Homo sapiens: one gene and its partners. The protein of the gene in region 3 purifies or fractionates together with the protein of the main gene of each other region. This does not show direct contact. Each region holds a gene or a part of one and is shown on either strand. Other genes may lie near its edges.

Region 1 (8,053 bases), on a different chromosome or scaffold from region 3:
TGCCCAGTCTCAGGTATGTCTTTATCAGCAGCATGAAAATAGACTAATACAGTAAATTGGTACTGGGGCGGGAGAGGGGGCTGCTGAAAAGCTATCAAAAAATGTGAAAGTGACTTTGAAACTGGGTAACAGGCAGAGGCCGGAACAGTTTGGAGGGCTCAGAAGAAGACAGAAAAATGTGGGAAAGTTTGGAACTCCCTAGAGACTTGTTGAATGGTTTTGACCAAAATGCTGGTAATGATATGGATAATGAAATCAAGGCTGAGATGGTCTCAGATGGAGATGAGAAACTTTTTGGGAACTGGAGCAAAGGTGACCCTTGTTATGTTTTAGCAGACACTGGCAGCATTTTGCCCTTGCCATAGAGATTTGTAGAACTTTGAGCTTGAGAGAAATAATTTAGGGTATCTGGCAGAAGAAATTTCTAAGCAGCAAAGCATTCAAGAGGTGACCTGAGTGCTGTTAAAGGCATTCAGTTTTATGAGGGAAGTAGAGCACAAAAGTTTGGAAAATTTGAAACCTGACAATGTGATAGACAAGAAAATCCTGGCCGGGCATGGTGGCTCATGCCTGTAATCCCAGCACTTTGGGAAGCCAAGGTGGGCAGATCATGAGGTCAGGAGTTCGAGACAAGCCTGACCAACATGGTGAAATCCCACCTCTACTAAAAATACAAAAATTAGCTGGGCGTGGTGGCGCACACCTGTAATCCCAGCTACTCAGGAGGCTGAGGCAGGAGAATCACTTGAACCCATGAGGCAGAGGTTGCAGTGAGCCGAGATTGTGCCACTGCACTCCAGCCTGGGCAAGAGAGTGAGACCCCATCTCAAAAAAAAAGAAAAGAAAATCCCATTTTCTGAGGAGAAATTAAGCTGGCTGCAGAAATTTGCGTAAGTAATGAGGAGCCAAAGACAATGGGGAAAATGTCTCCAGGGCGTGTCAGAGGTCTTCAAGGCAGGCCCTCCCATCACAGGCCCAGAAGTTTAGGAGGAAAAAATGGTTTCACAGGCCAGGCCCAGGAGCCCTGCATCCCAGCTGCTCCAGCCATGACTAAAAGTGGCCAAGGTACAGATCAGGCTGTTGCTTCAGAGGGTGGAAGCCCTAGGCCTTGGCAACTTCCATGCAGCATTGAGCCTGTGGGCACACAGAAGTCAAGAATTGAGGTTTGGGGACCTCTACCTAGATTTCAGAAGATGTATGGACATGCCTGGATGCCCAGGAAGAAGTCTGCTGCAGGGGTGGGGCCCTCATGGAGAACTTCTGCTAGGGCAGTGCAGAAGGGAAATGTGGGGTCAGAACCCCCACACAGAGTCCCTACTGGGGCACCACCTAGTGGAGCTGTGAGAAGAGGGCCACTGTCCTTCAGACAGCAGAATGGCAGATCCACCAACAGCTTGCACCATGCATCTGGAAAAGCCACAGACACTCAATGCCAGCACATGAAAGGAGCCAGGAGGGAGGTTGTAACCCTGCAAAGCCACAGGAGCAGAGCTGCCCAAGACCATGGGAACTCGCCTCCTGCATCAGCGTAATCTGAACGTGAGACATGGAGTCAAAGGAGATCATTTTGGAGCTTTAAGATTTGACTGCCCTGCTGGATTTCAGACTTGCATAACTTGCCCAAAATCACACAGGTAATAAGAGCCTGTAGCCAATTACTCCCATTTGGAATGGCTGTATTTATCCATAGCCTGTACCCCCATTGTATCTAGGAAGTAACTAACTTGCTTGTGATTTTACAGGCTCATAGGCGGAAGGGAGACTTGCCTTGATTCAAATGAGAGTTTGGACTGTGGACTTTTAAGTTAATGCTGAAATAAGACTTTGGGGGACTGTTGGGAAGGCATGACTGGTTTTGAATTCTGAGGACATGAGATGTGGGAGGGGCCAAGGGTGGAATTATATGGTTTGGCTGTGTCCCCACCCAAATCTCATCTTGAATTTTAACTCCCACAATTCCCACATATCGTAGGAGGAACCCGGTGGGAGGTGATACAATTATGGGGCAGGTCTTTCCTGCACTGTTCTCGTGATAGTGAATGAATCTCACAAGATCTGATGGTTTTAAAAATGGGAGTGTCCCTGCACAAGCTCTCTTCTCATCTGCTGCCATGTGAGATGTGGCTTTCACCTTCTGCCATGACTGTGAGGCCTCCCCAGCCACGTGAAACTACAAGTCCAATAAACCTCTTTATTTTGTAAATTGCCCTGTCTTAGTTGTGTCTTTATTAGCAGCATGAAAATGGACCAATACAGAAGGTGAATCATTTTATCCCCATTTTACAGAGGAGAAAACATTTGTCCAAGAGCATATCATTCCTTGTCTCATCGGTAGCTCAGAAAGACCATAAAGCAGTGTCATTCCAGGAAGGCCTAGATTTCCAGCGGAACCCTGTTCAGATTCAAAACAAGGAAGCAGTCCTGTAGAGTAAACTGCAGGCATCTAGCTCATCTTTTCACATTCCAGTGCTTACTGAAGATAGCCAAAAAAGAGACCTGCTTATTCTTCCTCTTTCTAAGAACTGAGGTAAACAGAAAACAACCTTCCCGAAAACCTTCATAAAAGGGTCAAGGTGTCTTGACAATACCGAAGACAGTTAACAAAACATAAGGCAAACGTCTGATTTTGTGCTTTCTGTTGTACAATAAAAAGCAAAAGCAGAGAGCATTTTTAGCTCTTAGATTTTAGATCTGGATTTGACCAAAGGATCTTAACATTAAGTTTGGTTTTCAATGCATTGATTAAAACTGACCAAAGCTATAAAAGCAGGTAAATCATTTGCTGAGGAGACAGCCTCCAATATAAACAGAGTGCATTCCACACAGGCTGTCATTAGCAGTGGCGTGATCCTGATTTCCATGGCTCAATTCTCTCATGACTTTCCTCCTGATTCCAAAAAAGCAAGGAGGACTATGGGAGGTGCCCAGGCCATGAAAAAGACAAAATGGCACCATGCAAAACCCTTATGGGACATTCTTCTAGACCAGTATGGCTTAAAAAAACACCTCATATCACATTCAGTCTTTGCATACTGCTTAAACAACAGTGGTCTCAGGATTTCCTCAATAGTTGACTTGATAAAGCTTCCCAAAATGGCATAACTGATGCTACTAAATGCTAATTTAGAATAATGCAGACGTAAGTGAAGTTTATTTCCCTTCGAGGTTTACTTTTTAAATGTTAAGTCTGGTGAGAGCAAAATAAAATATTGTTTGCATATGTGGGCAGTTTAATGTCCACCCAAATTTATGTTAGGAGTATGCATGTTTGGTAAAGGTTACATTTAGAAAAGACTGGTGTCAAAATAAATTAATCTTCAGAAAATCTTGCATATTTTTCTAAAATCATCAGCTTGAGATAATGTTGGGGGCAACTACCAAATGTTTTTCTACAAGGGTAACCATGAAAAATGACAAAAATCAAGGTTTAATATCCTAAATCACCTGCAAGTAAGTAAAAACAAGGTCAGTATTAACATAGAAAGAGATGTCAAAAGAAGCAATTGTTTTTCCTTCTTTTTTCTTTTTGGTCTCCTCTTCCCAGACTCAAGTGATCCTCCTGCCTCAGCCTCCCGAGTAGCTGGGACTACAGGTGTCTGCCCCTACACCCACCTAATTTTTGTATTTTTTGTATAGACTGGGTTTTGCCACATTGTCCAGGCTGCTCTCAAACTCCTGGGCTCAAGCAACCCTCCTTCCTCACCTTCACAAAGTGGTGGGATTACAGGCATGAGCCACGGCACCTGGTCCAGAAAACCCACTTTACTTACTTACTTACTTACATTTATTTATTTATTTTTGAGATAGAGTCTCACTCTTGTTGCCCAGGCTGGAATGCAGTGGCGCAATCTCGGCTCACTGCAACCTCTGCCTCCTGGGTTCAAGCAATTCTCCTGCCTCAGCCCCCCCAGTAGCTGGGATTACAGGCACCCATCAACACGCTCAGCTACTTTTTGTATTTGTAGTAGAGACAGGGTTTCGCCATGTTGGCCAGGCTGGTCTTGAACTCCTGACCTCAGGTGATCCGCCCGCCTCAGCCTCCCAAAGTGCTGGGATTACAGACATAGGCCAACGCATCTGGCCATAAAACCCACTTTCTAAGGGGGTTAAGAATGAATGCCTATACTTAACCAAGTTATTCCAATAAATAATAATAAAAACAGGCCATGCATGGTGGCTCACGCCTGTAATCCCAACACTTTGGGAGGCCAAGGCAGGTGGATCACCTGAGGTCAGGAGTTTGAGACCAGCCTGGCCAACATGGTGAAACCCTGTCTCTACTAAAAATACAAAAATTAGCAGGGCGTGGTGGTACGAGCCTGTAGTCCCAGCTACTCAGGAGGCTGAGGCAGGAGAATCACTTGAACCTAGGAGGTGGAGGTTGCAGTGAGCTGAGATCACGCCACTGCACTCCAGCCTAAGTGACAGAGTGAGACTCTGTCTCACCAAAAAAAAAAAAAAAAAAAAAGAGGAATAAAAACAGTTCTTGGCTAGGCGCGGTGACTAACGTCTGTAACTCCAGCACTCTGGGAGGCCGAGGCGGGTGGATCACCTGAGGTCAGGAGTTCGAGACCAGCCTGACCAACATGGAGAAACCCCATCTCTACTAAAAATACAAAAAAATGGCCGGGCATGGTGGCACTTGCCTGTAATCCCAGCTACTTGGGAGGCTGAGACAGGAGAATCACTTGAACCCGAGAGGCAGAGGTTGCGGTGAGCCGAGATCACGCCATTGCACTCCAGCCTGGGCAACAAGAGTGAAACAACATCTCAAAAAAAAAAGAAAGAAAAAAAACACAGTTCTTATTTTGTATTTCAAATCTTGCAGGAATATTTTTCCTTTAATGATGAAGAAAATATTCTTCCTTTACAGATTGGAAAAAAATAGACCAAAAAAATAATCACAGAAGGATTCCCAAATCCCACCTCCTATTCAACTACTCTTGGTATGCATCTAGGTTTTACAAAAAAATTCTGAATGGACAGATGTCCCAATTCAAAATAAGCCTACACATTTACTGTCTAGTTCTTTTCAATAATAGTCCTGCACAGTATTAGCAATATTAGATTGATCTAGAAATACAGAAAGTCTCAGCTAGCTTTTTTTTCTTTTTTTTTTTGAGAGGGAGTCTCACTCTGTTGCCCAGGCTGGAGTGCAGTGGTGTGATCTTGGCTCACTGCAGCTTCCGCCTCCTGGTTTCAAGCGATTCTCCTGCCTTAGCCTCCCGAGTAGCTGGGAATACAGGCTAATTTTTGTACTTTTAGTACAGACCGGTTTTCACCATGCTGGCCAGGCTGGTCTCGAACTCCTGACCTCGAGTGATCTGCCCGCCTTGTTCTCCCAAAGTGCTGGGATTACAGGCGTAAGCCACTATACCCAGCCCAGCTAAGCTTTTTAATCAAAGTTTATTTTGATTGCTCTGCATGTTGGTCACATACATGACTGATAAACTAGATGCAGCCCACATCTAACCCAGTTTGCATCCAACATCTGATTTTATAAGGAGCTGACTTTAGTGGAGAAGCAGGATTACTGTTTTAATATTTACAGCGTGTAAATATTTACAAATGACTACTCAAGAGACTGAGGTGGAAGGGTCACTTGAGCTCAGGAGGTGGAGGCTGCAGTGAGCCAAGATCATGCCACTGCACTCCAGCATGGAAAAAAGAGCAAGACCGTGACTCAAAAAAATAATAATAATAATACAAATGAGTCAACATCTCTCAGTTGAAAAATACTGCAGAACAATGAATTTAACATCAAGTACATAAAAATGTAAGGGAACAATCATAATTGGACCTATATTTAGCTGGCCACGGTGGTTCACACCTGTAATCCCAGCACTTTGGGAGGCTGAGGTGGGCAGATAACCTGAGGTCAGGGAGTTCGAGAGAAGCCTATTCAGCATGGTGAAACACCATCTCTACTAAAAATATAAAGATTAGCCAGGTGTGGTGGTACATGCCTGTAGTTCCAGCTACTCCATAGGCTGCAGCAGGAGGACTGCTTGAACCCAGGAGGCAGACATTGCCGTGAGCTGAGATTGTGCCACTGCACTCCACATTGCAGCCTGGGTGACAGAGTGAGACACCATCTCAAAAAAAAAAAAAAAGAACTATATTTAACATCAATCACCTGTGGGTTCCATGGTCTACAGCAAAGGCTACATTTCCAAAGACAAACACTGCCCCAAAAAATAAAAGAGCTAAGAAAATCATGTTTTCTACAGGCGCCCGCCACCGTGCCGGCTAATTTTTTGTATTTTTAGTAGAGATGGGGTTTCACCGTGTTAGCCAGGATGGTCTCAATCTCCTGACTTCATGATCCGCCTGCCTCAGTCTCCCAAAGTTGGGGGATTACAGGCGTGAGCCACCGCGCCTGGCCAGGAAATTTTCTTTTGTTTTTTTTGTTTTTTTTTTTCAGACAGAGTTTTGCTGTGTTGCCCAGGCTGCAGTGCAGTGGTGCAATCTCAGCTCACTGCAACCTCTGCCACCTGGGTTGAAGCAATTCTCCCACTACAGCCTCCCGAGTAGCTGGGATTACAGGCACATGCCACCACGCCTGGCTAATTTTTGTATTTTTAATAGAGACGAGTTTCATCATGTTGGCCAGGCTGGCCTCGAACTCCTGACCTCAAGCACTCTGCCCACCTCAGCCTCCCAAAGTGCTGGGATTACAGGTGTGAGCCACCACACCCGGCCCCTCATAGGAAATTTAAATGCCAGAACTACCAGTTCTTTTTCTTGGAAGAGATCTACTATACTACGTCTAGCAATGTTTTCTTTTTTTTTTTTAAGCCTATATTTTTAATACATTTGTTCCCCAAAAGGTCACTTTCTACTTTCAAAAAACATGTGAGTCACTCGAGATGAAAAACAGCTTATCTAAAAATGTGTTATAGCTCCCAATAACTCCAAACTGACATCCCAAGATATGAGGCTGTTCCACAGTGAGAGAACTTGGAAACTGGAACTCTCTGATTACTTACTTGTTAAAAAAAGGTTCAATGAGTTTTGATCTGGCAGACACATGAATTTTTGGAGGGCTGAGAAAAGAACCTAATGAAGAAAAGAAGAGAGGTATTATTATTCATAGTCACATAGACCAAGCCTGAAAGTTCAGACCAAAACAGATTTAAATTAACAGCATGGTTCAACAAGTGTGAAAGGTATTCTTTTTTTTTTGAGTCAGAGTTTCACTCTTGTTGCCCAGGCTGGAGTGCAATGGCGCAATCTCGGTTCACTGAAACTTCCACCTCCCAGATTCAAGTGATTGTCCTGCCTCAGCCTCCCGAGGACCAGGGATTACAGACATGTGCCACCATGCCCAGCTAATTTTGTATTTTTAGTGGAGACAGGGTTTTTCCATGTTGGTCAGGCTGGTCTCAAACTCCTAACCTCAGGTGATCCACCCACCTCAGCCTCCTAAAGTGCTGGGATTACAGGAGTAAGCCACTGCGCCCGGCCTGTGAAAGGTATTCTTACGCACCAAGTACCATACCACAGCAAGTGTCAGTGGTTTTTCTTGCAGATTTCCTCCTCCCCTCATCTCCTCCCACTCCTACCTCAAAACCCTCCCACTTTTAATTGGGTGAGTGGATCCCAAGGAAATGGTAGTGCTATAGGTTCAATGTTTGTGTCCCCCTAAAATTCATATGTTGAAGCCTCCCCAGTACGATGGTATTTGGAAGTGAGACCTTTGGGAGGTAATTAAGTCACGAGGGAATTAGTGCCCTTATAAGAAGGGTCAGGAGGCTGGGTGCGGTGGCTCAAGCCTGTAATTCCAGCACTTTGGGAGGCTGAGGTAGGAGGATCACTTGAGCCCAGAAATTCTAGATCAGCCTGGTTAACACAGCAAGACCCTGTCTCTATAAAAAAATTAAAAAGTTAGCCAGGCACAGTGATGCACACCAGTAGTCCCAGCTACTTGGGAGGCTGAGCCCAGGAGTTCAGCGTTGCAGTAAGCTATGATTGAACCACTGTACTTCCAGCCTGGGTGACAGAGTGAGACCCTGACTCTTAAAAAAGAGGCGGCACAGCTTCTGCTCTCTCT
Region 2 (7,305 bases), on a different chromosome or scaffold from region 3:
GCAGAGCACCTGAGCCTGAGCTCTGAGGCAGCCTGTCCTGCAGAGATGGGGGACCGGGGACCTGAGAGGGAGGAGGAATCAGCCGTGACAACCCCTGTGGCTAGGCCAAGTCGGAGGGGGATGGAGATGGAGGGGAGGGTGGTTGCTGGATTCACCAACTCCAGAGACAAGTTCTCTCCCTTGCAGCTGCCCGGGAACAGGCAAAGGAGGCGTGCAAAGCTGCAGCAGAACAGGCCATCTCCGTCCGACAGCAGGTCGTGGTATGTGCCAGCTTTTCTCCTTTTTCCTTTGAAAAACGATGCCCCTGCTTGTGGTCAGGATCTTCCTTGGATATCTTAGGGGGCTTGCCCTGTGCTTTATATTAAGTCCTGACTTCTTTCCGGTTCACCTTAGCTTGGCTATTAGTGTCTACCTCATTTCCGAAACCTCCACAAGATTGATATTGTAATTCCTCTTAACCTTCTTCCACTGTGTTTATGGTAAATATGCCAGACCACTCAACTGTAGTAGTAGAAAAGGTATTGAGGTTACAGTGCTGAAGCTTGTTGTGTGTCCTGCTGTGTCCTACAAAAATGTTGCATTCTAGAGAATGAAACCCCAGAGCACTCTGGAACTCTTTTTTTTTTTTTTTTTTTTTTGAAGTAGTGTCTACCTCTGTTGCACAGGCTGGAGTGCAGTGGCACAGTTGCAGCTCACTACAGCCTCAAACTCTTGGGCTCAAACGATCCTCCCTCCTCAACCACCCAAGTAGCTAGACCACAGGCACACACCACCATTCCCAGCTATTTTTTGTTATTGTTTTTGGTGGAGACGGGGTCTCACTATATTGCCCAGGCTATCACTCGAATTCTTAACCCCTGCCCCCTGCCTTTCCTTTTTTTTTTTTTTTTTTTTAATTTCCTTTTAAAAAAAAAATAGTGACATGGTCTTACTCTTACCCTGATGCCCAGGCTGGAGTACAGTGGTGCAATTATAGCTCATTGCAGCCTTGTACTCCTGGGTTCAAGTGATCCTCCCACCTCAGCCTCCCAAGTAGCTAGGACTACAAGCACGCACCACCATGCCCAGCTACATTTGTTTCTTTTTTTTTGTAGAGATAGGGGTCTTGCTATGTTGCCCAGGCTGGTCTCAGACTGCCTAAAGCAGTCCTCCCACCTAGGCCGCCCAAAGCACTGGAATTATAGGCATGAGCCACTGCACCTGGCCTGCTTGCCTTTCTTAAATGACCTCATGTCATTGTCCAGTGAGGAATTTGTTTCAGCTGACCCTGAGTGTTGGTCCCGAAGTTCCAGCCACAGCTCCTCTCCCCACCACTGACTGTTCTTCTTACCACTTAGGCAGCTGGGTCCCAGCTATTGCTGAGGCCGGTGGAGTTCCCTGTTCCCATGTGCCTCCCTGTTCCTCCCCCACATCTGTTCCTGATCTACAGCTAGAAAATGCTGCAAAGAAGAGAGAGCGAGCAACAAGCGACCCAAGGACCACAGAACAGAAACAAGAGAAGAAACGACTCAAAATTTCCAAGAAGCCAAAGGACCCAGAGCCACCAGAAAAAGAGTTTACGCCTTACGACTACAGCCAGTCAGACTTCAAGGCTTTTGCTGGTGAGGAAGTAATGGGGCCCCATACAGGGACATCTGTGCGCGTCAGAGGGGAGGAAGCCATAAAGAGACCACAATATAGGGGCCAAGTGAGTCCTGCACAAGGCATGGTGCTAGCCAGGAATTGTTGGAGTAGTCCAGAGAGGCCGTGGCAATGTGGACAGTCGCCTGCAGCCTCATTACCACCTCCTCCATGGGAGCTCAACTCATGGTGGCCTCCATGGTGGGTTAGCAAGATCACCTGTCACTTCCACTGTGACCAGGGCGCCATCCTTCCTCACTATAACTTGTGCCCATAAACCCTCTCTCTCTCTCTCACACACACACACACACAGAATTTTGTTTGTTGAAAAATCTCAAAGCCTATGACATGAACCCCTATGGCTGCTTGGGCTGTGAGAGTCCGTCTGCTTTGAAGGGGCTACAGATGGCATTCTCGACTCTAGCAGCCTTCGGAGCAACATGCTCCTTTGGAAAAGAGAAAGCAGAGGCCAGTCCACACAATGGCCCTTTATACAGGAGTGTCGCCTCAGAGCCCGAGTTCCTTATGGCATCACCCAGCACAGAGATCAGAATGGATTTCCTTATGTGCGGGGGCCACTGCTGTAGCCACCTGCCCCTAAGGTCCTGGGACTAGAGCTGAGAGAAATGGGCCTGGTTTTCAGACTGCCCACAGGGACCAGGATCGCTATGTATTCATTTATGTGAGCCATGAGCCCTAGCCCCTCATCGTGACAGGGGTGCTCTCACAGCCAAGGCTTCCCTGAGTGTCATGGTCCCGGCCTCGCTGTGAGCCTGTGATGTGTGGTAACTCATTGACCTGACCGCAGGTCTCTCTCATCTCTTACCTTTCAGGAAACAGCAAATCCAAAGTTTCTTCTCAGTTTGATCCAAATAAACAGACCCCGTCTGGCAAGGTAAGAACTGCTCCTGGAGGATTTTAGCACGCTGGTGGCGCCTGTTTCTGACCTCCTCCTCTGCTGAGAAGACAGGCCCATCCAGGAGTCCATTCCTTTGCATATCTTTTTCCTCACCTCATTTCTTCCCAAGGGCAGACAGTACTGATCAGCTACCCCAGCAACTCATAAAACGAGGCTGTAAAAGCTGGCATGTGGCTTTAAAGGGTATTATTCTGTGTTTGCTACCATGGGAACTATAGCTGCAGGCCAAAAGCACCCCCTTTGGGGCCAGCACAAGCCTGCATTCACCCCTCGTGGGTGTTGGTGCTGGTGCCAGGGAAACAGCGTGGCTGTAGCTTCCACAGGCGCGGGGGCAGGGCTGCTTTGGGGTGCTCCTGTTCCTCTTGCAGCGCATCCTGGCGGCCTTGCCTTCAGAGACACAGAAACATCCTCTCTCAGGGGATCTAAAGTCACTCCTGTGCTGCTAGAATCTTTGGCCACCTGAGCTCAGGTGTGTTTTTCTGTGTATCTTGTGGTCAAGGTGCCCACCCAGCTTAAACGGTTTCTTTTCTTTTCAGAAATGCATTGCAGCCAAAAAAATTAAACAGTCGGTGGGAAACAAAAGCATGTCCTTTCCAACTGGAAAGTCAGACAGGTATGTGGTGGACGGCGGTGTGGCCCAGGGAGCCCAGTGAGAAAGCACCTGCCCTGCGTGGTGTGGTCCGTGGGGAGTAGCTGGGGAGCGAGTGTCCAGGGGTCTTCAACCAGGATGACTCAGAGAACCTCCCACAGCCAGGTCCCTCACGCCACTCGGAAAACAAGGGCGGGAGGTGATTTGCTCTGTGCCATACATCACAGAGCCAGGCACTGCACCCCAGGACTCAGATTCCCCTTGTTCCTGGCTCTCTAGTTACCGTGTGTCCTGGGGTCACCTCAGGGAAAATAGGTGTAAATAGTTGTGAAATTTTCCTGGACCAGCCTATTAGGAATGAGGAAAAAGTAAGCACATGTGGGTTATCCTTGTTGTTGAAGAGTGGTTTGGCTTGGTTTGGTTTTGTTTTGTGAGAGTCTCATTCTGTCACCCAGGCTGGAGTGCAGTGGCACAATCTCAGCTCACTGCAACCTCCACCTCCTGGGTTCAAGCAAGTCTCTCACCTCAGCCTCCCGAGTAGCTGGGATTACAGGTGCCTGCCATCATGCCCGGCTAATGTTTTTTTTTTTTTTCTTCTTTGAGATGGAGTCTCGGTCTGTCGCCCAGGCTGGAGTGCAGTGGCACGATCTCTGCTCACTGCAAGCTGCGCCTCCCGGGTTCACGCCATTCTCCTGCCTCAGCCTCTCGAGTAGCTGGGACCACAGGCGCCCGCCATGATGCCCGGCTAATTTTTTGTATTTTTTAGTAGAGACGGGGTTTCACCATGTTAGCCAGGATGGTCTCGATCTCCTGACCTTGTGATCCGCCCGCCTCGGCCTCCCACAGTGCTGGGGTTACAGGCGTGAGCCACCGCGCCCGGCCTGTTTTTGTATTTTTAGTAGAGATGGGGTTTTGCCATGTTGGCCAGGCTGGTCTCAAACTCCTGGCCTCAATTGATCCTCCCGCCTTGGCCTCCCAGAGTACTGGGATTACAGGTGTGAGCCACTGCACCCAGCCAAATGTTTTTGTTAAAAACATAAAATCCTAATAATTAAGCCGACCCTGAGGTCAGGGGACTTGCCCGAGGGCAGGAAAAACAGGTCTGCCTTCTCAAGATGCTGCTCAGCTCAGCCAACTCTGGTGGGCCGCCGAGTTCTCTGGGGCCCCTGAGCAAACCATTCTTCCTCTGTTCTGCATGATTAAGATTTGCACCATTTTGTAAACCATCTGAGAACATCCAACCAGCCCGGAAGAAATAACTGTTGTTTTTGTACTCTCTGCAGAGGCTTCAGGTACAACTGGCCACAGAGATAGTCCTGGAAGACACGTGGCGCCTGTGGACCGGAAGCACCAAATGCTGGTGCTGCTTTTGTACATACATATTTTTAAACCATTAAAATTCTTCCTGAAGAAAGCTGATTCCTGACTTTTATTTTGTTGCCGCCACAGCTCTGGCAGGTTGCCATCCTGTTCAGGCAACCATCTTCAGCTGTCTGTGGGCAGGTGAGTGTGCTCCGGGGGTTATGGTGACTTCTAGAAAAATCCAGAGCCGGCCGGGTGCGGTGGCTCACGCCTGCAATCCCAGCACTTTGGGAGGCTGAGGCAGGCGGATCACGAGGTCAGGAGATCGAGACCATGCTGGCCAACACGGTGAAAGCCTTTCTCTACTAAAAATACAAAAAATTAGCCGGGCATGGTGGTGGACGCCTGTAATCCCAGCTACTCAGGAGGCTGAGGCAGGAGAATCGCTTGAACCTAGGAGGCGGAGGTTGCAGTGAGCCGAGATCACGCCACCTCATTTGAGCCTGGGCAGTAGAGCAAGACTCTGTCTCAAAAAAAAAGGCAAATGCAAAGAGAAAATTTTAATCATTTGTAGTCCTGTCACACAAAGATGCTTTTTTCCTTTTTTTGAGACAGGGTCTCACTCTGTTGCCCATTCTGGAGTGCAGTAGTGTGATCCTAGCTCACTGCAGCCTTGACCTCCCAGGCACATGCCACCACACCTGGGTAATTTTTCTTATGTTTTATAGAGATGGGGTCTTGCTGTGTTGCCCAGGCTGGTCTTGAACTCCTGGCCTCAAGCAATCCTCCTGTCTTGTCCTGCCAGTGTTGGGATTTCAGGCATGAGCCACCACACCCAGCTGAGATTAACATTTTGCTGTATTTCCTTATAAGCTTTCGCTATGTGTATATAGATATATTTTTAAAATATATCTTGGGTTCAGGTTTCTATCATTTGTCACCTTGAAAGTTTGTGTTATGACACTTTTCTCAATCTAAAATTTATTTTCGCCAACCCCCATTGTTAAACGCTTAGGTTTTCATTTTTGGTACTATTCTTAATAATGCAGCACTCACTAAACTTTTATATAAATTTGTGACCCAGTCTCTGATAATTTCTTTAGAACTTCATTTTATTTTAATCCTGAGATGGGCTAATAAATCAGGAAAGCACAAAATGCCATTACTTTGGTTTTTACAAATACTTAACCTAGAAACCTTTTTTCTTTGAAATTCATCCCACAAAGTATTGAGATTGCCAACTGTATATGATAACCTTTGGGGGGTACCAAGCCAAATCACACATCACTGCCGTCAGAGAGCTCCCACTCTTGAACAGCAGAGAACAGCCCTGTCCTAAGATAGGCTGGAGTTTGTTTTAGCTAGGACTAGACTGGTTGAAAATGACAGAAAAGCCAAACTATAGTGACTTTTAACAAGAGAGATGATTTTCCTCCTCTTTTGTAAACATAGTTGGCCCAGAGCTAGTGTGATGCTCATGATCATCAGACACAGGCTCCTATCTTGTTTTACCATCCTCAGCTCAAACACAAGGCTGCCGCCTCATGGTGCAGGGTGACTGCCCTTGCTCCAGCCATTACATTCTCATTCCAGTCTGCTGGAAGGAGGAAAGAACAGCACCCAATCTCTTTGAATAGGATACTGCCCATTTCAACTTCCCATTGGTCAGAACTTAGTCACAAGACCACAGCAAGGGGTACTAGGAAATATCATTATTTCAGTCATCCGTGTGTCCAACTAAAAGCCCAGGGTTCTACTATAGAATTTGGGAAGAACAGACATCGAAGGACAAAGAACAGTCACTGCCTAAAAATGGCAGTCTCTGCTATAAAAAATTGACAAGCGGAATTTTTTTTTTTTTTTTTTCCTGAGACGGAGTTTCGCTCTTGTTGCCCAGGCTGAAGTGCAATGGCACGGCACAATCTCGGCTCACTGCAACCTCCACCTCCTGGATTCAAGCAGTTGTCCTGCCTCAGCCTCCCAAGGAGTTGGGATTACAGGCGCCTGCCATCACGCCCGGCTTATTTTTGTATTTTTAAGTACAGACAAGGTTTCACCATGTTGGTCAGGCTGGTCTCGAACTCCTGACCTCAGGTGATCCACTCACCTCAGCCTCCCAAAGTGCTGGGATTACAGGCGTGAGCCACTGTGCCCGGCCTCACAGGTGGAATTTTTTTTTTTTTTTTTTTTTTGAGACAGTCTCGCTCTTGTCACCCAGGCTGGAGTGCAGTGGTACGATCTCAGCTCACTGCAACCTCTGCCTCTCGGGTTCAAGCAATTCTCCTGCCTCAGCCTCCCACGTAGCTGGGATTACAGGCGCCCACCACCACACCCAGCTAATTAGTGGAGACGGGGTTGTACCATGTTGGCCAGACTGGTCTTGAACTCCTGACCTCAAGTGATCCGCCCACCTCAGCCTTCCAAAGTGCTGGGATTGCAAGGCGTGAGCCACGACGCCTGGCCAAAGTGAGAAATTATTTTCTCCTGAGGATGGCCTGAGAGGCCTCGTGAAAGGCGCATTCGGACTGGACCCTGAGGAGCAAGGGACTTCCAGAGAGCTCTATGGCAGCGCAGCTCAAAGCGGAGGTCTCTGACAGCCCAGATGAGGACTTGTCAGAAAGAATCCAGTGCCACCTAGAGCCTGGAGGCTGCCAGGGCCGCTGTGCTCACCCGTTAAAGTGATGCCGCACCCTTTCTTTGGAAGTTTTCCATATTGGTTTTGTCTGTGTGACAATGTTTTTCTGTTTGTTTGTTTGTTGGTTTGTTTGTTTTTTGAGGCAGAGTCTCCCTCTGGCGTTCAGGCTGGAGTGCAATGGCATGATCTTCGCTCACTGCAATCTCCATCTCCTGGGTTCAAGAAATTCTCCTGCCTCAG
Region 3 (8,053 bases):
CGTCCCTGCTGGTCCAGTGCCCTGCCGTCCCCCTGAGTCTTGACTTTATTCTGGATAGTGGAGGTTGGCACAAAAATATCTCCCAGTTAAAGGAATTATAATTCAGTCACCTGACTATTACTGACAAGTCAAAAAAAAATGACTCAGTGGGTTTAGTACCAAGGTAGCAGTGTTCCATTTGATGATTCAGCATATAGCAGGTTCTCTTAGTGAACATTTCTCTTTGTGTATTTGTTTTTCCCCCACATAGCAACGAAGTTAGTTTCTAATGACTTCCATTCTCTACTTTTATCAGAAGCAGATTTCACCTGGAATATTCTATAAACCCTTTGAAACCCTCTATTTTAGCCATGGTGTCTTCTAAGCAAAGTAATTTTCTTGAACTTAAATAACAAATTGATAGTTGAATTAACCTTTTAAAATAAAATGTAAAGTGTAGCTAAGAAATCATTATTTAAAGGTATTCCAACGATAAATTATTTGGGATGGGGCTGGGGAGGTCAGGTATATTGAGGTGTAAGTTACATATGGTAAAAGTCACCCTTTTAAAGTGAACAATTTGATGAATTTTGAACAACTTCAGTTATGCAACCACCACAACATGATGGATTGTTTTAGTAAATGTTCTTCTTACCAGGAGTTCATCCTTGTTTAAGTCTGGAGTTTGCCGTGTTAAGGTTGCAGGTGCTTGAAAGTGTAATAAAATTGTAGGTTTTTTAATCTTTTTTTTAATCTCTTACTGGAAGGATGAATTATAGTTTAAATAGTAATAATGCATTGTCGTTGTTACACTTACTCTTTAAGTAAGTTAGGTCATTATTTTCCGAAATGAATGTAGTAGAATTTCAGAATGGCTTCTGGAACATGTTTCCTGTTAAAAGGCCTAGAATATCCTGCAGTGGTAGAGTTTGCTCCATTCCAGAAGATAGCCAAAAAGAAGCTGAGAAAAAAAGATGCCAAGACTGGAAGCATCGAAGATGGTGAGCCCTTTCCAAGTGCTACGTTATGAAGCTGCCAAATTAAGAACACTGAGCAAATGTAATTCTCCCGTAGTTGGGAAAGATTATATTTATTTTCTTCCTACTTTTTAATGTCTAGATCCAGAATATAAGAAGTTTTTAGAAACCTACTGTGTGGAGGAAGAGAAGACCAGTGCCAACCCTGAGACTCTGCTGGGGGAGATGGAGGCGAAGACAAGAGAGCTCATTGGTCTGTTTTGCTCATTTCTTCTCTTTTCTTTATTGAGAGATTTACTCGTAGAGGATATACGTTTTTTCTCTTTTTCTTGACTGTGATAACAAGTTGAAACTTGTTACAGGCTTGACAGAAATGTAGAGTGATTTCCAGTTTTGACAAAAGAATGGCAAGATGGCAGCATGGGAAAATATTTCTGAGCGTTGGTTGATGGAGAGCACGTGATTTTTTTAGTTAAGATCATTTTAAGTTATGATGCTTCCGAATGAGCAGTGCAGAAGACACATGAATGGTCTGTTCCTGAGCGTCAGGGAAGGCATGTTGTGTCACATAGTTGAAGTCAGTGGTCACAGACGGATGCCTCAAGAGCCCATAGGAATGAGATGTTTTGCTTGCGGTGAGGTCATCTTGCTGCTTCAACACAAATGCCAGGCTCCCCGAGCCAGGCCAACTTGTGGATAAGCCCAGCCAGAGCACAGAATCGAGTTTAAATCCAGCCTTCCACCCCATGCCCACAAGTGGTGTACTTTAGAAATAGTTACTTCCCAGTAGCACCAACATACTTCCCAGTAGCACCAACATGAAAATCAGGCAAACTGTTGTTGTTTAGTCCCAGACACACCTGGTAGTGTTTCTCTTCTCTGTGGATCTCCTTTCCTCAAAGCCCTGGTTCTTCACCTCTCATCTCTCCCGCCCAGGCTGTGCCCTGCCCACCCATCAAGATGGATGTACTTTGGGAGGCCAGGGTGGGCGGATCACAAGGTCAGGACTTCGAGATCAGCCTGGCCGACATGGTGAAACCCCATCTCTACTAAAGATACAAAAAATTAGCAGGGCATGGTGGTGCGTGCCTATAGTTCCAGCTACTGAGGAGGCTGAGGCAGGAGAATCGCTTGAACCCAGAAGGCGGAGGTTGCAGTGAGCTGAGATCGCACCACTGCACTCCAGCCTGGTGACAGAGCGAGACTCCATCTCAAAAAACCAATAAAATTGATGTGACATGACAGCCACATTGTTTATCATTTATTTTCCTGTCTGTCTCCCACCACATAAACTCCCTTCTTGTTTTGTCTCCCCAGTGGAACTATATTTTCATCTTCATGGTTGTAGAAAAGTTCAGGAATTTAGTAGATGTTGATTGAATTAATAAAAAAAGATTAATATTACTGAAATAGTCCGTTCACTTTCTTCATTTATCTAGTAATAAAGCTTTTTTTCCCCCCACTCTGTTGCCCAGGCTGGAGTGCGGTGGCACAATCTCGGCTCACTGCAACCTCTGCCTTCCCAGTTCAGGCCATTCTTCTGCCTCAGCCTCCTGAGTAGCTGGGATTACAGGCACCCGCCATCATGCCCAGCTAATTTTTATATTTTTGTGGAGATGGGTTTCACCATGTTGGCCAGGCTGGTCTTGAACTCCTGATCTCAGATGATCCGCCTGCCTCAGCCTCCCAAAGTACTGGGATTACAGGCGTGAGCCACCACACCTAGCCGTAATAAGGCTTTTGATCACTAAAGTAAACAAAATATGCTGAGGCTGCATGCTGCCTGGGCACTGACTCTGGGCCTCAGCATGGGGCCAAGTGGTAAGCAGGTTGCACAAGGCCTCTGCCTACCATCGGGATGACAGGTTGGAAGCAGGAGCAGGAATAGTCCAACCAGGGCACCTCAGTGTGTAATCACTGCCACTGATGTGACAAAGTGGAATATGGGAGGGAAAGAGGTTGGGAGACTCCCTCCAAGATAGTGGTGGAGCTGGAGCTGAGACTGGCTGCGGGAGGGAAAGAGGTCAGGAGATGAGCTGAGCCTGGCCGTGCTGAGCAGTGGAGGAAGGAAGCGCCAGGGGCAGGGCCGGCTGCTGTCGCTTTTCACTGCAGGCGCAGAGTGCAGGCTTGTGGGGTTGGCACACATGGGTGAGGGCAGCGTGGTTGGAGGTTCAGGGCACTGCAAGACATTTAGATTCATTCCAGGGCAACTGGAAGCCACTGGGGGAGTAGCATGGTCTGATTATTTGTCCCCGTCACTTTGGTGGTGTCACATGGGATAGACTGTGGATGCCAAGAGATGAGCGTGTGTTTTGGAGGTGGGCTGGACAGGACCGACAGACGGATAGGGTGTGGGAGGTAAGGGGACAGGAAGAATTAAGACTCCAGTGCTTGGCTTGAACAGATGGGTGGATTGTGGCACCATTATACACAAGGGAACATGAGGGTAGGACAGTATTGGGGGCAAAGTCGAGATTTCACTTAAGAACTTGATAAATTGAAGAAGAGCTAGAAGCAGCAAATTAGACGTTATTACAGGCCTCATCTCCCTGCCCCTCCCATTTCCATCTCACTTTGTTTTAAATGTCCCCTTGCAAAGGATCGGTCACTTTAGGGCTGTTTTGAGACATACCTTTTTGGGGCAGACACGTGGCTCCTGCCGGGGTGGGGAGAGGGGGGCATGTCCTGGCACCTCCCCGAGAGTCTGCTGCACAGCCAATGCTTCACAAAAGTTGGCTGAATGAATGAATGAATGTGGCTTAGAACCCACCATCCCTGATGGGAGCGATTAATTCATTCCAGGACTTGGCTGTAGAGTCTTCCTTGTTTCTGTGATTGCTGTTTCTATGTATGAAAAATTGAAACTTGGCCGGGTGCGGTGGCTCACACCTGTAATCCCAGCATTTTAGGAGGCTGAGGCGGGCAGATCATGAGGTCAAGAGATTGAGACCTTTCTGGCCAACATGGTGAAACCCCGTTTTTACTAAAAATACAAAAATTAGCTGGGCGTGGTAGCATGCGCCTGTAGTCCCAGCTACTTGGGAGGCTGAGGCAGGAGAATCGCTTGAACTCGGCAGGCGGAGGTTACAGTGAGCCAAGACCACGCCACTGCACTCCAGCCTGGCGACAAAGTAAGACTCCATCTCAAAAAAAAAAAAAAAAAAAATTTTAGGCAATTCATGGCAGATTACCTTTTTCTTTTCTAAGCTTTTGGCCTCCAGTGGATTCTTCTGCACAGGTCTGAGAAGCAAGTGTTAAATGGAAATACTAATAAGCTGTTTCTGGCAAGGACTCTGGAGTTGTTGAGTTAGTCTGGTGCATCGGCCTTTAGCATCGGCCTTTAGAGCAGACAGGCCTGGGTTCAGCTCTGAGACTTCTGTTTACTTGTGTTCTGTTGCATGGTTGTGCGTATTCTGTCTGATAAATAACATACTTTTATGATGTGTAGAACACTTTCTTATTCAGGGTCTAACGTACTTTGCCCGTGATCCCTGTGGGTGATAGGGCAGACATTTTATAGGAAGAGGAAGGTGGGCAAGCGGAGTCTGGGGTCAGCCTCCCCACACATCCAGGTGGTCTCGCCCGGCTCCTGGCTGACAAGTTCAGGCTTTCCACAGAGCAGAGCAGAACCCTGGCTGATTTGAGATAATTTGCCCATTACAAAGAGCTGACCATTTACCTGAGCCAGTGTGCTGTACTCACCCTGAGCCAGAGTTCATGGTCAGCCCAGGGACCCCTGGGGGAGTGTTCTCTGTGGCAACTGTGTCTGCCACGAAATGTGGCATTTGTACCTGCATCAGCTCTTCCCTACAACCACTGTGCCTGGGGCAGGGCTCCTGGGACAATCGGCTCTTCCCTACAACCACAGACTGTCCCTGGGGAAGGGCTTCTGGGACAGGTGCCATTTCATCTATGATGTCAGGGTGTCAGGGGTTCTCAGTTCCAAGTGATGGATCCCTGGCCAGGGCTTCTCCTATGATTCCTGATTCATTCCTGGTCCTCAGAATTCCAGAGATGATGTGTCAGTTTTCAGGTACATCCAGGGATTCTTCCCAGCCCTGTTTAGTCTGAGATCTTACAGACCCACAGAGTAGACCCCGTCTTCCCCCTTCCCATTTGTGTCCTTGTGTTGGTGGGATGTGGGGCCTGTCCATGTCAGCGCAAGTCCCTCTGAGGTGGGGCCTGTGGGGCCTCTAGCTTGCCTGGGCACCCACATCCAGGTCAGATCTGAGAGGTCGGGCATGAAAGCGAAGGACCAAGATAGAGTCTGTAGAAATGTTCATTCCCTAGTAGTTGGTGCCTTTTCTGCAATCAGCAGCGCCATATGGAGTCATTTTCTTTTTCTTTTCTTTTTTTTCTTTTTTTTTTTTTTTTGAGGCAGAGTTTCGCTGTTGTTGCCCAGGCTGGAGTGCAGTGGCGCAATCTCGGCTCACTGCAACCTCCTCCTCCCGTGTTCAAGTAGTTTTCCTGCCTCAGCCTCCCGAGTAGCTGGGATTATAGGCGCGTGCCATCACGCCCGGCTAATTTTGTATTTTTTCAGTAGAGACGGGGTTTCCTTAGGTTGGTCAGGCTGGTCTCGAATTCCCAATCTAAGGTGATCTGCCCGCCTTGGCCTCCCAAAGTGCTGAGATTACATGTGTGAGCCACCACGCCCGGCCCATGTGGAGTCATTTTCTAAACTACAATCCAGAGTTGTATGTCTTATCATTGGGATTTTATGGAGTATATATTGTAAGACATTACAAGAATCCATGTTATTTTAAAACTGTTGCTTGGAGAACGGAAAACGAAAAAGTTCTCAGAATATGCGATGTATCAAAATAAATATATGTTATTTAATGATTTAAGGCACCTACAAAAATATCATCTTGGAATATTTTAAGCCTCCCTTAAGAATCAGGAATTAGATGTCTACTATGTATGAAATTGTTGATACTTTCAAATTACTTGACCTGACAGTAATGGAATAAAAACTCCCCTGGAGACAGTGTGTAAATTTAAAAAGTAATGATATGGTTCCCGTATTTATTTTAAAGATTACATTCAAAACAAGTATTTAAAATACATCTTTCTTTAGGAGTTAAATACAATATTACAATTTTTGTGTTTTAGCTAGAAGAACCACACCTCTTTTGGAATATATTAAAAATAGAAAATTAGAAAAGCAGGTAGGTCTGGCCTTTACCTGATGAACACCCTCCCTGCTTCTGCCATTCTCATCCAGGCAGTTTATACACACGCTCTTCCATGTCTTTAGAGAATTCGAGAAGAGAAGCGAGAAGAACGGAGGAGGAGAGAGTTAGAAAAGAAACGTTTGCGGGAAGAGGAAAAAAGAAGAAGAAGAGAAGAAGAAAGATGCAAAAAAAAAGAGACAGATAAACAGAAGAAAATTGCAGAGAAAGAAGTAAGGATTAAGGTAATTCTGAGGAAACATTTCCTTTTTCCAAAAATAGCTCTGCTATAGTAATTACACTTTTTACATATCTTAGTTCTTTAGAATTTTGAAAACATTCTGAATTAATCTAATATTGTGTTGTTATTTTTTTCCATCTTTTCCATCTTTCTTTCCATCCTACAGCAGTGGTTATCACAGTGCGTCCTGAGCCCTGGGAGTCCTCAGGCTGCTGTTGGGTGCCTGTCCTCCTGGGTGTGCAGTGGGGAGCACACCCCACAGGAGCCCCACGCTGGCACACGTTGGGCTGCTGCTGACGCTCTTTTTTTTTTTTTTTTTTTTAAACTTTCCAACTTTCATTTTCGGCTCAAGGCGTACATGTGCAGGTGTGTTACATGTTCATTGTCAGCTCAACGCGTACACGTGCAGGTGTGTTACGTGTTCATTTTCGACTCAAGGCGTACACGTGCAGATGTGTCACATGTTCATTTTCAGCTCAAGGCGTACACGTGCAGGTGTGTTACGTGTTCATTTTCGACTCAAGGCGTACACGTGCAGATGTGTCACATGTTCATTTTCGGCTCAAGGCGTACACGTGCAGGTGTGTTACGTGTTCATTTTCGGCTCAAGGCTTACACGTGCAGGTGTGCCACATGTTCATTTTCGGTTCAAGGCGTACACGTGCAGGTGTGTTACGTGTTCATTTTCGGCTCAAGGCGTACACGTGCAGGTGTGCCACATGTTTATTTTCGGTTCAAGGCGTACACGTGCAGGTGTGTTACGTGTTCATTTTCGGCTCAAGGCGTACACGTGCAGGTGTGTTACGTGTTCATTTTCGGTTCAAGGCGTACACGTGCAGGTGTGTTACGTGTTCATTTTCGGCTCAAGGCGTACACGTGCAGGTGTGTCACATGGGTAAATCAAGTGTCACTGGGGTTTGGTGTGCAGATAATTTTGTTGCCCAGGTAATCAGCACAGTACCTGATGTTTTTCAGTCTTCACCCTCCTCCCATTCTCCACCCTCTACATTTTCCTTTAAAAAAAAGTTTTCCTCCCAGCACTTTGGGAGGCTGAGGCGGGCAGATCACGAGGTCAGGAGTTCGAGATCACCCTGACTAACATGGTGAAACCCTGTCTCTACTAAAAATACAAAAATTAGCCAGGTGTGGTGGCGGACGCCTTAATCCCAGCTACTCAGGAGGCTGAGGCAGGAGAATCGCTTGAACCCAGGGAGCAGAGGTTGCAGTGAGCCGAGATCGCGCCATTGCACTCCAGCCTGGGCGACAGAGCAAGACTCCCTCTCAAAAAAAAAAAAAAAAAAAAAAAATTTCCTGGCCGGGTGGGGTGGCTGACACCTATAATCTCAGCACTTTGGGAGACCGAGGCAGGCGGATTACTTGAGTTCAGGAGTTTGAGACCAGCTTGGCCAATATGGGGAAACCCCATCTCTACTAAAAACACAAAAATGAGCCGGACGTGGTGGCGTGTGCCTGGAATCCCAGCTACTCAGGAGGCTGAGGCAGGAGAATCACTTGAACCCAGGAGGCGGAGGTTGCAGCGAGCCGGGATCGCGCCACTGCACTCCAGCCTGGGCAACAGAGCAAGACTCTGTCTTAAAAAAAAAAAAGTTTCCCTGATTAAAAAATACACATTTGAAAACCACTGGTTTTGCCTTTCTGTGTGAAGGCTGACTCAGAACCGGGTT
Region 4 (7,517 bases), on a different chromosome or scaffold from region 3:
CATCGTGAGGCTAACTTCATGCTAGAAATCTACGGATAACGTAACACCACAAAAATACATTCGGAGTCCATTCCAATGCAAGTTTAAAACACTTTAATTGGCAGACAATGTAAAGATATTTAAAATCAAAAATTACAAAATGAGCACATAAAAGTCTTCCCTTTTGAATTTTTAATAAAATACTTCTCTGTATAAGATCTAATGAAAAATTCCAGTTACTTATAAAATAGTTGAGAAATCAATTAAGATATGTATCTATATATGTATGAATTACACTTTTGTTTAAATGAACAAAATGTTGAACACTTCAATGACAGCACAGCATCTATTACTCACATTAAACTAGATGAAAATACTCAAAGAAGCAGTTGGATACAGGCAAAAGAAAATATGATACTTAAAGCCAAAAGACAAAAAAATCCAAAAAACGAAAACAACCTCCCCATCCCCCACCAAACCCTTAACTGTAAGGGAAAGAAAGGAAGAGAGAACTTAAAGCTAACTATGGACCAAATTCTCATTCTTTTTAATGAGAAACAGCATGAGAATTTGGCTTCAAATTACTAAAACAGCTACAGAAACCTATTTGGCCTGGACAATTTAATAGTATACCAACTGCTGAAACAACCAAGTGCAGTTGGTGTACGGCTGGAGGGAAAAAAAAAAAGACTTTTTACAGGTTTAACTTTGTAAAAAAATGTATCTTTTGGAAACCATAGTCTCCTTCACAAATTGCACTTGAGATGGCTGAATGCATTGATTGAGCAAGGCATTATTATTTGTTCACTGACACACACACAAAAGCAGCTACAGATAGTTGACATTTTGGACTACTAAAACTATTTTATACATGTTTTTCTTCTTTAAGAAAAGGATCTATGATGTCTGTGAAACTTAACGGCCTGTCTGCTCTGCCATGTTTCTGGAGACTTGATGCTGGTTCAACACTATCTCTTACTGTATTGGAGAAGTTTGATGGAAATATGAATAAAGTCAGTCCGAACGACATTAATTTCTGGAATTTTAAGCTTTATCTTGACTAGGAAAGGAAGCTCCTGCAAAACTGATGGTTTCACTGACAAAGCTTACAAAATGTATATACTGAGCACTGCCAGTTTGAGTACTATAATTTATCTCTAGAAAAATGACAAATGAACTTCTGCAATTGATTTTTAAAGACAGAGAACGACTTTCACAGCCACTTCTCTACAATAAATTAATTGTCTTCTACAGTAAAAACAAAATTTGGAAGCAACATGATACCAAGAAATACAGCAAGCTCATAAGGCTGAGAAATTGTACAGTTGCTTTAAAAAACTGTGCTCTAAATAATGGGAAGAAGCGTGACAGAACTAACTTGAGTGAAGATCTGCACAGCTCTATCTCATATAATAAAAGTAAAAATTAGACAACCACTATAAACAGTTATGACTAACACAAATAGAACACATAAATAAAAAGTGAGTAAAAAAGACCTTACAGTTTATCTATTTCCTTGTGCTAGAAAGATACGGTATAGTCCAAAAATGCAGTGACTGGGTATGTCTTATTTAACTGTTTTTCTTCTTCCATCTGCCTCCCTCTCTCTGCCTCCTCTCATTAAAACCAAGAATCTAGCTTAGTTTGGAAGTAGCAGTCTAAAATGAAAGCAGGTACCTGATCATAGAAAGAAACAATAAAAAAACTTGCATCAATAGTTCTTCATTCCTCCACCAATCGGGAAAAAAACCCTTCAATCTTTATTAGTTACCCCTTTGAAAAGCAAGAAAAATCTTAAATTGAAACCAAGGTTCAGTAGAGGTGACTTTAATTTTTTTCTGCAACTACAACTGAGTCTTAGATGTTTAAGACTTTAGTCTACATGATGTTTAAATCAATTAATACATTCAAATTCTAACGCTGAGGTAATTATTAGGTAATGCAGGAAAATGTGAAAAGGAACGAGACTGGAAGGAGCAATCTTCAAAATTCACTTAAGTTGCTCAAAAAAGAAAAAACTTATTGAATAGAAATATTTAGAAATAATGTTTCAGTTAGGAGACAAAGGCTTAAATAGATTGAAGTGCTCTAGTTATGTGGAAGCATAAAGCAATTTGGGGAATCTGTCCTATGCCCTAAACAGTCCACCATTTTCACAAAAAGTCCTCAGAAGATTCAAGTTGAATGAGCATATTTTTAAACTTTGGGGGTGGTCTTAGTCCACCCCATCTCAAAGAGAGAATTTTAAATTTCTTGAAGTCCAACTGCTTTTCAGATATACTCTAAATTCCAGGTCTATCAACAGATTGTTTCCTCAACATGGGGCAGAAATGGCCTCTGCTTCTTACATCCTCCATAGGGAGGGCACATCTCCCATTGACCTCAGGCCCACATTTAGAATGGGTCTACAGGGGGAAAAGAATAGAGAATGCCTGACCACTATCCAGCCATTATGGAGCTCTCTCCTATCTTAATCTCTTCTCAGTTTTGACCTTTAGAATAATAATGTTAAAAAAAAAGTAAGGATAATAAAACTTTTTTCTTTTTTTTGAGACAGAGTCTTGCTCTGCTCTCCAGGCTGGAGTGCAGTGGTGCAATCTCGGCTCACTGCAGACTCTGCCTCGCGGGTTCAAATGATTCTCATGCCTCAGCCTCCCGAGTAGCTGGGACTAAAGGCATGTGCCATCACGCCCGGCTAATTTTTGTATTTTTAGTAGAGACAGGGCTTCATCATGTTGGCCAGGCTTGTCTGGAACTCCGGACCTCAAGTGATCCGCCTGCCTTAGCCTCCCGAAGTGCTGGGATTTGAGCCACTGCGCCTGGCTGGAAAATAAAACTCTTTCACTGCCTATCTGTATAGAACTGTCAGCTTGCTGTGCTCAAATATTGGTCAAGTATCCTTATGGGTTTAGTGCACTATGTCTACTGAAATTTCCCTTTGGAGTTTTCAGAAGATGGCAGGTGCCGCTTCTTCTATGCTCTAAAACAGATGTGAGCTGCATGCTATTTATATAACTGTCACACAGGAGTAATGAGTGAGGCAAATTCTCAATGCTGGAGTTTGTACAGCTGAGGTGAAACATTTCACACTTTAAAGTAGGAAGAGGTTAATATAACATTACTGTCACAATTTAACTTTTCTTTGTATTACCATAATAGATGTTTCCTTTAAAAACAAAGAGAGAGTTTATGAGGCAATAATTATACACATTGAGGATTTACTTGAGCCTCATTACTCAAGATCCCACTACAGATAAAGAAACAATGTTGGGAACTGATAAACATCTGAACTTATGAAAATAACAGAAAATAAAATCATGGAAACTTATACGACTATGATAAATGACAGATAATGAATATTTCTCTCTTATACTGAAGGCACTGCTAATACACAAATATCCTGCTAACATTTAAACTCTGAAATCAGCAGTTAGTGAAAGGAGTCCATTTAGTTTAATACCAGCATTTTAAAAAACAAGTAAGACTACTTTAAGAGTCATGGCAGAGTTTCCAATGAGTTACATGAAAATCAGATATAACAAGCTGCTCCATATAAAGATTGTGGTTCCTACTTTTAAAAAAGTATGCTATAACTTACTTCCTTAAAAATATAAGCATATCACAAAAACTAAAGAATAAATATATATATATATATAAACATAGGCCCTGCTGAGAAATCGTCATAAATTCTAAAATAATTTCAACAGTTACAGCTTGAACCACACATTCACATATGACATGCAAAGAGAGAATCCCAGCATCATTGAACAGTTCAGCATAAAGCTAAAAATATAGAATCAGAATGAAATAGGCAGTAAATAATGTATGTCACAAACTGATGACTGTGCCTCCTATATTGTAGCACACCTTGGAACTTAAACAACAATTAGAATTTCTTCAGTCCCAAGAAGCACTACATACCGACCAACTATGAAGCTCTCATAAAATGTCAGGTAAGCAAATAAAAAGCTATACAAAATAATACAGTTTATTAATTAACATGACTAATATTTCATATTTTATTTTGTTAGAAGATTAATTTGTAATCATTGTACCCTGTAGATTTTGAAACAATTTTACTAGAAATTACTAATGCTGGTTCTTGAGTAACCTAAAAAATTGTATTTACTCAAATTTAGAATGCTATTTATAGTTCTAAGCAGTTAGATGAAATATTCTGATTATTCTAAAGTTGCTTTGGTACAAAATTTAGAATAAAGCAAAACTGGCAGCACCACAACAAATGTGATCCTTTCACAGCAGGTCTAAAGACCCTCAGAGGCAACAAAGCATAAGTTAAAACACACATAAATAAGAGCCATTCTCCTGACAATTTTCTTACATCATTAAAAAGAGAAATAAAATCCACATTCAGTAAGTTATACTGGAGGCCCAAATTTCATGCTCCATGTAATTATTCCTCAATGATAGTGTAAAAAATGCTTATTATTGCTAACTGATGTCTAATTCATAGTTCAGGATGCTTCAATCATGAGGCCAATGATTAGAGTGGTACATTTTAATGTTTAGTCCACTGATACTGTGATATTATTTTAATGCAAGGTTTAATTTAGTTTTTTATTACAGATTTATTGAGGTATAATTGACATACAACAAACTGCACATACTTAAAGTGCACAATTTGATACACAGTCTTTTAAACAGCATGAAAAGTGCCTGATAACTTAAAAATGAAAAAAATTTCAATTTACACATATTATTTTAAAATAGTACATTCTAATTTTTATGAGACATAGATATGTATTTATAAAAAGGTAGATGGAAAGAGAAGAAATTAACTTAATTCTAAGAGCCAAATTTACTCAGAAGGTTTAGAAACACCAAAATTAACAGCCAGTTTTCTTGATTTTCTTCTTGAAGAAGAGATTGGTGTTGACTTATGGTGAGATATACTATGGCCTTGAGAGGCAGTTTCAACTTGAAAAGAAGATGCAGGTTGAGCAATCGGAGAGGACTTCAAAGAAGCTGATGAGCTCTCCCGTGGACTTACTTTGACAATGTTGGAAGAATCTGGCTGGCTAGTCTGAACTGGAGTGGCTTGAGAACTCTGGGCTTCCTTATTCTCAAAGTTCTTTTTGTTTGCAACCCTTTTTTTAGTAACCTGTTAGGAATAAAAGCATCACTAATTAATAATGTAGGCAAAAAATTAGCTAGTGTTGGAAATTACCATAAACCATGCATGCTGTTAATATTTGTCAATCACAGCTGATCTGTGACTTCCACTTATAATTGCCAAGTAAGACTTTAGTAATTCAAAGGACTTAGTTACAAACAAAATATTTAAAATTCTTGGGCTGTGTGCAGTGGCTCACAACTGTAATATCAGCACTTTGGGAGGCCGAGGCAGGTGGATCGGTAGAGACCTAGGGTTCGAGACCATGGCAAAACCCCATCTCTACAAAAAAATTACAAAAACTAGACAGGCATGGTGGCACATGCCTGTAGCCTCAGGTACTCGGGAGTCTAAGATGGGAGGATCACTTGAGCCCAGGAAGTCAAGGCTGCAGGGAGTCGAGATTGTGCATGGGCTGCGTTCCAGCCTGGGCTACAGAGTGAGATCCTTCTCCAAAAAAATGAATAATAATAATAATAATAAAAATACAATTCTTCATAGGTTATTTTGAAAATATTTGTGATTTTATTTATATTACTGATTTTAATCAATCTGTATTAGAATAGCATATTACTTGGTACAATTATTGTTTATTAGAACACAAACTCAGAGAGCAGAGACAGGTCAGACTTGTCAACCATTGCCTTCTTACTACCCACACTAGTACTGAACTTCTAGTTGGCACTGAATAAGTAAACTGAATAAAAAAATGTTTATCAATAGTCTTTCAGCATTAAACAAATAATTATCTTAAAAATATTATTTTTCTTACCTGCAGAGGTATAAACTGATTGTGCACACCCCCTGGTATTCCCCCAGCCATGGGCATGGTCCCAGAATATAAAGTATGATGGAAGGGCTTCCCAGGAACTGGCACCGATGGTCCCCATGGCATTGAGCCAAAGAGATGAGACGACGAAGGCATTATATTAGCTGTTAAAAACCAAGGAAAATTTTTCTTTTAGTAAAATGGTATCATCAAAGCTCTGAAATTTGAGACCTCCTTCTGCTAGCCTTTTTGGGCTTTTTTTTTCCCCTTTGGCAAAAGGCCTACACTTACTTCACCTATAATTACTCTTCCTTACAACATTCAACCTCAGGATCCTTTCCTAGGACTGTGTGGACTATCTACACAAATGAATTTATCATTATACTGGCCTGAAAAGGAGAATACTACTACTAATATCATATGCTGATACAAGTTTTAGGAATATTTGCAATTATATTTATAAAAAAAATAAAAGGGTCATGAAATTGTCCCTTGTGAGAGAAAAGCTTGGGCACAAATAGAGAAATCTTAAGGATCTCACCTGCCCCCAATGCATAGTTGCTTCCATAGTGATCCCAGCCTACAAAAAAACCAAAAAACCTCAAGTCCTGAAATCTCATCACCTTCATATGACAGGTAGAATCTTTCTTTTCTCTATTTTAATATTTGAAGTCAAGGCCTTTTTTCACTTACAGTTTGTTTATTAAAAATGTAATGAACCAATGGGTGCCAAATCTAATTTGTATATCTGAATCACTTGAGGAGTTTGTGAAATACAGATTCCTGGACAGGGCCTCAGACCTAGTAAGCCAGACTCTGAGGGGCCCTGGAGTTTGTATTAAGCTCCATAGGCGATTCTTATGGAGACAGCCTGTACCAGTAGAGCATTTGAAAACTACATTAAACAGTGACATTCAAGGCACCAGCACACGCCACTGAAGAAGATATGCACTATGTTCAAATATTCTTTTCATAGAGATAAAAAGCAGCCAGACCTGTAAAACAGTATAGCTTAATTAAAGTTCAGCTATTTAAGACACTTTTAGGTTAGGAGAGAAGAATCATAATATATTTCAGTGTTATGAAATACACATACACAAATTCTAAGAAGAAGAAAACTTTTAATATGAAAAACACTAATAAGATTCAGAAAATTAGGCGAGGCGCAGTGGCTCATGCCTGTAATCCCAGCACTTTGGGATGCCAGGCATGGCACGTGGCTGTGGTCCCAGCTACTCAGGAGGCTAATGTGTGAGGATTGCTTGAGCCTGGGAGGTGGAGGTTGCAGTGAGCCAAGATCATGTCACTGCACTTTAACTTGGTTGACAGAGTGAGACCTAAGAAAAGTAGAAAATTAGGTCTTGAAACTATCTACGAGCAACTTTGGTGGGAGTCATAATGCTAAGAAGGTCTATTTAAAAGATGCTATGCTAATCTTATACAATGGTCAACTCCGTAATTTCCCCAATAAATCACTGTTACAAATATGAAATACATATTCCTCAACTGGGACATTTTACATCACAAATTTTTTTATACCATAAAATAGAAATTTACAAAATAACTTTAAAATGTTAATCTAATGCTTAAGTTGTTCTCTGCTGATTAACCTCCAAATATCTTGGCATTTATGTA

The links.
Region 1: the proteins of UPF3A (region 3) and PARN purify together in Homo sapiens (affinity purification with western blotting, with the first as the bait; one study listed by BioGRID). This does not show direct contact.
Region 2: the proteins of UPF3A (region 3) and EXOSC10 purify together in Homo sapiens (affinity purification with western blotting, with the first as the bait; one study listed by BioGRID). This does not show direct contact.
Region 4: the proteins of UPF3A (region 3) and XRN1 purify together in Homo sapiens (affinity purification with western blotting, with the first as the bait; one study listed by BioGRID). This does not show direct contact.

Annotation. Positions count from the first base shown.
Region 1 is NC_000016.10:14,573,885-14,581,937, forward strand, and holds part of PARN (poly(A)-specific ribonuclease PARN), read right to left. Parts: intron 7,060-8,053; coding exon 6,990-7,059; intron 2,393-6,989; coding exon of another isoform or gene 2,374-2,392; exon of another isoform or gene 2,195-2,373; intron 1-2,194. UniProt on the Homo sapiens protein: 3'-exoribonuclease that has a preference for poly(A) tails of mRNAs, thereby efficiently degrading poly(A) tails.
Region 2 is NC_000001.11:11,063,855-11,071,159, reverse strand, and holds the end of EXOSC10 (exosome complex component 10), read left to right. Parts: intron 1-171; coding exon of another isoform or gene 172-186; coding exon 187-260; intron 261-1,429; coding exon 1,430-1,601; intron 1,602-2,453; coding exon 2,454-2,515; intron 2,516-3,075; coding exon 3,076-3,152; intron 3,153-4,411; coding exon 4,412-4,442; 3' UTR 4,443-4,542; downstream 4,543-7,305. UniProt on the Homo sapiens protein: Catalytic component of the RNA exosome complex which has 3'->5' exoribonuclease activity and participates in a multitude of cellular RNA processing and degradation events.
Region 3 is NC_000013.11:114,285,421-114,293,473, forward strand, and holds part of UPF3A (regulator of nonsense transcripts 3A), read left to right. Parts: intron 1-838; exon of another isoform or gene 839-850; coding exon of another isoform or gene 851-881; coding exon 882-980; intron 981-1,098; coding exon 1,099-1,209; intron 1,210-1,318; coding exon of another isoform or gene 1,319-1,335; exon of another isoform or gene 1,336-1,892; coding exon of another isoform or gene 1,893-2,116; exon of another isoform or gene 2,117-2,366; intron 2,367-6,068; coding exon 6,069-6,124; intron 6,125-6,180; coding exon of another isoform or gene 6,181-6,213; coding exon 6,214-6,372; intron 6,373-6,378; exon of another isoform or gene 6,379-7,164; intron 7,165-7,250; exon of another isoform or gene 7,251-8,053. UniProt on the Homo sapiens protein: Involved in nonsense-mediated decay (NMD) of mRNAs containing premature stop codons by associating with the nuclear exon junction complex (EJC) and serving as link between the EJC core and NMD machinery.
Region 4 is NC_000003.12:142,306,713-142,314,229, forward strand, and holds part of XRN1 (5'-3' exoribonuclease 1), read right to left. Parts: intron 6,463-7,517; coding exon of another isoform or gene 6,424-6,462; intron 6,047-6,423; coding exon 5,886-6,046; intron 5,102-5,885; coding exon 4,799-5,101; 3' UTR 1-4,798. UniProt on the Homo sapiens protein: Major 5'-3' exoribonuclease involved in mRNA decay. Required for the 5'-3'-processing of the G4 tetraplex-containing DNA and RNA substrates. The kinetic of hydrolysis is faster for G4 RNA tetraplex than for G4 DNA tetraplex and monomeric RNA tetraplex.